Regions from separate parts of the Homo sapiens genome. Here region 2 is linked to region 1. Evidence: fine-mapped QTL for protein levels in blood plasma. A gene starts in region 1. The other region holds a variant in brackets. All regions are shown on one strand. Distances are between the middles of the regions.

Region 1 (2,913 bases):
AGTGGTTGTTTTATTCTTTCGCAAGACTATTTCATTACCGTAATTTTCAAGCATGCCGAGGTGTCCTAATGTCTCTTCTAATTGCTTGAATGTCGCTGACCTTTTTTTAAAAGAACACACAGCGCCCATAATATGCAAGGGAGACCTAAGTTAAGTAGCAGCACCAAAACGTATCCACCAAACAAAGGCTCTTCCTCAGACGGCCCCTTCTGGAGAGAACCTTTCCTAATATTTTCCAGTAGGGGGAACTAAAGACTCACCATCCAGCATTTAGCTCGGCTCGGGGACCTGCGTGAGTTCCTATAAGCCGCCTTCTCATCATCTGAACAAGCATCAAACGGCTACCAGCGAGCCTGTGATCACACGTGGGCCCGGCCGCACCGGGGCACCGCCGACACCGGCACCCCTTTGATCTAACGTGACCTTCCTTCATCATCCCCGGTCCTGAATGGCATCCTTTGGTAGTCTTGGTCTTAATTTTCAGAGTTTTGTCGTCTTTGGGCTGAAATTCGGCTTCTTTTTGAGCTTCCATGAGCTCAGCTGGGCTTTCGGCTTTCCACACCCAGAGCCTATGTTTACCGAATTTCCTTCTGGAGGTGCTGGTCCCTGGAGGGTAAAGACTTCGGGGATCCCCCTCCCCCAAGCTCTGTGATCCCCGCTTCCCCGTCCTTAGCATCTTCTGTGGAACTCCCTCGCCCTGCGCGATCGCGCATCAAACTCATCGTGGAGGGGTCAAAAGGCAACTGAGTAACATAAGAGGGGCTGCCTCCCCTTCCTCCTTCCCTTGGGGATGCCGCAGGGGGCCATAGATCTTGGCTAAAATGAGCCGCTGGAGGTTAGAGAATTCTGCCCCCTCCTTTTTCTCCCCCTTGTGCTTTTGAATCATATAGGAAGCATCTACACACAACCTTTCCAGTCCAAAAGGTGCTTCTATTTCCTTTCCTTTCCTTTCCTTCCTCCTACTCGGCTTCTCATCTGGCTAAAAGGTGAAGAGTGAGTGAGTGTGTGATTTTAACGCGTAATGAGGCTGCGCCCTGGGTCCTGGAGGCTGATCTTTTTCAAGAAAGCGCGTGCAGCTCCGGCAGACGGAGGGATGAATAATTAGGAAGGGCTTCCATGAAATCACTCACGGAGAAAATTACCTGCCCATTAAACGGGACGCGGCGAGGAGCAGGAGCCTGGAGCCCACCTATCCCCTCCCGAGGCGGGAAGGAGTGGGCACCCGGGGGCGCGGAGAAGGGGAAGGAGTCGCCCGGTGGCCTCGGCCCTCGGCAGCCGGCGGGGCTCTCCGAATTTGTTCATCTCCGTCCCCCCGGGGACTCTCGGCTCTCCAGGACCCCTCCCCACTCCCCAGCGGGCGGGTGGCCGAGTCCGGAGGTTCAGGGCTCCGCGCGCCCCTCCTCGCCCCCGCCCCTCCCCGGGCCGACTCCAGGCAGCTCTCATTCCTCCCCTCCCCTCCCGCCTCCTCGCCTTCCCTCCTAGAAGTCCTTCCACCCGCGGCAGCTGCCGGAGGAAGCGGACGCTCTGCTGCGAGGCTGCGGGGGCTGGACCCGGGCGAGGGGCCTCAGCGCGCCTGGCGCTGGACTGAGCGCTCCCTTTCTCCGCCGCGCCCGGGCTGGGCTCTCACGCCCGTCTCTGCTCGCGCCCGCAGCCGCCTGGTGCACTATCCTCAGAGGCGGCACCGCGGGGGTGTCTGCAGCCTCGGCCTCCGCCCGGCCCCTCCCTCCCTCCCTCCCTCCCTCGCTCCTTCCCTGCCTCCCTCACCACGTAGGAGTTCGGATTCTCCACCCGAATCGTCCTGATTTCCCTTCTCCTCTCTTTTGGAAACCGGAGAGGTGGAGGGAGGGCAACACCGCTGCAAAGGAGAGGCCCGCCAAGTCTGCCCGCCTGCAAAGTGTTGCTTTGACACATTCTTATTATGGAAGTTAAGTAAAAATATAGACATATTAAAAAATAACTCCGGACGTGGAGCTGCTACGGAGAAGGAAACCGGGGGAAAGAAAACCAGTAGGCAGGCCAATGGTTTTTCGGCAGCGCGCTGGCAAGTTTGTGGAACACTTTCTAGGAATTAGGTCTTTTCCTCCCCCTTCATCATCTTGACTTCTGAAGGAAGAACTTGGCTTTGGATTGCAGTGGAGCCTAAGGAGAGAGGGTTAGACACACTCGAATAATCCCTCTGGCTGGGCTGAATTTGTGGGAATTTAGGAAGCCAGAGTGCTGGAAATACAGCAGCCTTTGAAGTACCCTCTGTTAATTTGGATGGATCTCAGTGTGCCCCGTTCGAGACCTCTCCACCAACCCCTTCTGATCTTGCGATTTGCTCTTCTTGACTTTAATTAGTATCTAGGAAAGTCTAAACTTTGGACCTACCTCTTTTTTTGATACTCATTTTTGTACTTTTGCTCTCTGGGATTGGTTTCTTAAAGAATCTGGATCCTTTTTAATATGTCAAAATGAGTCTGCTGATGTTTACACAACTACTGCTCTGTGGATTTTTATATGTTCGGGTTGATGGTAAGTTAAAAATGCTTTCATCTTTTTTTGCGCCCCCCACCCCCCAATCCCCCAAAACCATTTCTTTTTGAATTTGATGTGGGTTATAAATGAAATGACATTATGTCTGTTAGTCCGTTTTGGCCCGGCACGGGCTCCTTGGGGGCAGAGGTTTTATTTAAGTCTTTTGTTTCTAAACTGCTGTAAGTGGAATGTGTTGGTAGTCACCTATTGTTGTTATTGTTGTAATTTACTTCACTAATTAAGGAGTTGGATAATAAATGATTGGGCTCCCAGTTTTGTTAGAAAAAGAAATATTACAGTCAATCTCCTGCAAGAGCCTAATACTATTGTGCCTGCTCTCTATTTGATGTTTGCTCTTGTGTCTGAACTTTGGCTGAGACATTCAAGTGAAGAAAT
Region 2 (2,913 bases), 580 kb after region 1:
ATCAACTGGACCCTACTGCCCAGCTTCACACTTTGTTAGCTACCTGATTTGAAACAAGTCACTTAAATTTGACCTTCACTTTAATAAATTCTAAAGAAGGTTGGGCCAAGCATGATAGCTCATGCCTGTAATCCCAGCACTTTGGGTTGCTGAGGCAGGACGCTTGCTTAAGCCCAGGAGTTTCAGACCAACCTAGACAACATAGTGAGAATCCCACTCTACAAAACATTTAAAAACTAATTGGGCATGGTGAAGCACACCTGTAATGCCAGCTACTTGGGAGACCAAGGCAGGAGGATCGCTTACGCCTGGGAAGTCAGGGCTGTAGTGAGCCATGATCGCATCACTGCACTCCATCCTGGGTGGCAGAACAAGACCCCTTCTCTCCAAAAAATTAAATAAATAAATAAATAAATAAATGAGGGTTGATAATGCATGATCTATTTATTTCATAAGGTTGAGATTAGAATTATTTATTCATTGCAAAAGGTTTATTTAACACACTAGTGTTCCAAACACAGAGAATCCTTAGATGAATTGTTTATGCCTTTGAGGAGTTTAAGACTTTGTTGGGTGAGACAGATACATAAATAGCTACTAGAGCACAAATTAGTTGTGCCTACCCTAAACTGGGTTATAGTGAAAGTGGAAATAGCCTTCCAGCCTTGATGTGAGAGAGATCGTGTGGGGAGGAAGCCTTCTAGGGTGGGAAATGTGTTCAGGGTTGGGAGGTAGGGGATATTAGGTCCTCATGTGACATCTTTTCTTCATAAGGGCCAGCAGGCAGCATGGGTTACACAGACTGAGTAGAATTTTGACACTAAACTGAGAACAAAAGTATAATATTTTTGGAGAAAAATATTCACTTTAAATAGTTACTCGTGGCGAATATTCCTAGTCCCCTCTAGATAACTTCTTTTCACAAAAATACTGGGCCCGTATTTTTTTTTCTCCGTGTGTTATCCTATAAATACCAAGTGAAGAGTTTAATGGTTTATGTTTTCCTTGTTTGGTGAGGCTCGTATTCGTAGCCATTGTTTCTGCTGAAAGCATTATGAACTCCTAAATTAGTTAATGGAAAGGAAGAAGACAGTATGAGTTACTATAGCATGCATTTAATTAAAATTATGATTTTGTTGCATGTTAATAAGTTGCTTTTCTTTTTTAAATTTCATTTGAATTCTAGGCACATTCAAAGCAATAATCAACCTCCACAGCCTCCAGTTCCACCGTTAGGTTATGTGTCTGGAGCCTTGATTTCTGATTTGGAAACGGATGTTGCAGATGATGATGCCGACGACGAAGAGGAAGCTTTAGAAATCCCCAGGCCCCTGAGAGCACTGGACCAGACTCCTGGATCCAGCATGGACAATCTAGACAGCTCTGTGACAGGTAACGGAACCAATTTAATAGGAAAAACTGACCTATTGGTAACATTAAAATGCATCAAAAGTCAACTACTTCCTTATTGTAAGATTTATTCCACTCCATCTATTTCTGTAACATTTTAAATGTGTTAATATTAAATA[C/A]AAAATTCAAAAAGGATTTGGAAATACTTTTGCTTTGCTGCAAAAATGATAAGAAAATTCATGAATTTTAAAAAGCTTTAAAGACATGAAAGAAAACTCAATTATATCTAGGGCTTTCATGAGAAGTTCACTCTACTAGGAAACCAAGTCTATTACATTAAAAACCTTGACTTTTAGAAATGATCTTTTTTATATATATCAGGAATAACATATGAAGTGAATGCAATCTTAAAATGCTTCTTGATATTTCACTCTGTAAAATCATTCACTGATGGAAAGTAAGCACGTCTCCTGAATAAGCCACTTTAAGGTTGCACAAGGTATTATTTTTAGAATGAAGAAAATGTGTAGTGAGATAAACCATATGTTTATGCATTTCACATTGCTGCATCTAGTAAATGCTTCTCTTCCAAGAAATGCAGTTATTTTTTCTGTTTATTTCTTTGGCTTCCTCTTGCCTTGTTCATCAAACGAAAGAGTTGCATTGGTACTCTTCTATGATGATCCCAGGACTAAGGTATAACCTATTTTCAGGGATTTAAATGTACCAATTTTTTTAAAGAAAACTTTAAATCCTAAAATGGACACAATGAATTTGGAGAAAACTAAAAATTCAGTCTTTCTATTCAAATAGATATACACTGTTGGACACACAAGAAAATGCCTCTTACATGACTGTGTAGACCGAGCTACTACAAACTGAAGTCTGGTCTCTGCATTTCACTGGGTCTTCTCAGAAGACCACTCATATCTGTATTTACCGTGATGACATCTTTCATCCTAGGAGATATTTTACCACAATCCCGCTTAATTCATTTTTATGCCAACAGCTTCCAAACTTTCACAGATTTTACACAATGTGTTAGAGTTCTACAAACACTGATGGGAACTGGTTTATGACAGGATAAAGCAGCATCAGCGCCTATGATTTTCCTCTGTATTCCTCCCTGAATTACTCAATGTGTGATGCATGAGCCCATTTTTCAGTTTTTCTTCTTATCCAGGGGCTGGTCTGCTTGCCAGCCTAATTAAGATTTAAGAGCTGCAGATACACCGCTGTGATTTGAAATCCAGATCCAACCGAAGGTGACAGAGCACAAGTTAAAATCTTCAAATGCAGAGAGCTGACTTATTAGTGCACTATTATGTTAAGCCCCTTTGCCTGAATTTCCAGCATAATCTCCTTCAGGGTAAAATTCTGCATATTTTTGCATATTTCACTAATGATACTGAACTCTTTTCCATTAGGAATGCAGTAACAAATTGCAATAATGATGAAAAACAGTCAGCTATAGTCTGTGTAGTTCTTTTATTAAATATTATAATGTCAAAGATGATAAATACGTCTATAAATCAAGAGAATGCCATTTTGCACTTTTACATG

Which allele goes with the higher level. Positions count from the first base shown, and alleles are read on the strand shown. Strength reflects both the effect of a copy and how common the allele is.
For the plasma level of the protein whose gene starts at base 1,767 in region 1, allele A in region 2 goes with a lower level than allele C (moderate association).

The links. PIP is the posterior inclusion probability: the model's chance that the variant is causal. Protein levels are from antibody-based Olink assays in UK Biobank. Linkage for the fine-mapping came from a reference panel and not from the study's own genotypes, which makes the PIPs less certain.
Region 2: its variant is fine-mapped to the plasma level of the ROBO2 protein (UK Biobank, PIP 0.97).

Annotation. Positions count from the first base shown.
Region 1 is chr3:77,038,333-77,041,245 of GRCh38, forward strand. It overlaps ROBO2 (roundabout guidance receptor 2), which reads left to right and starts at 1,767. Exons shown (of 28, transcript NM_001395656.1): 1 at 1,767-2,514. The coding sequence starts at 2,454.
Region 2 is chr3:77,621,041-77,623,953 of GRCh38, forward strand. ROBO2 (roundabout guidance receptor 2) reads left to right here. Exons shown (of 28, transcript NM_001395656.1): 24 at 1,187-1,392. Among named protein-coding and RNA genes, the nearest start is that of LINC02077, 430 kb to the right of the region's middle. The variant C/A (reference allele first, on the strand shown) is at 1,530.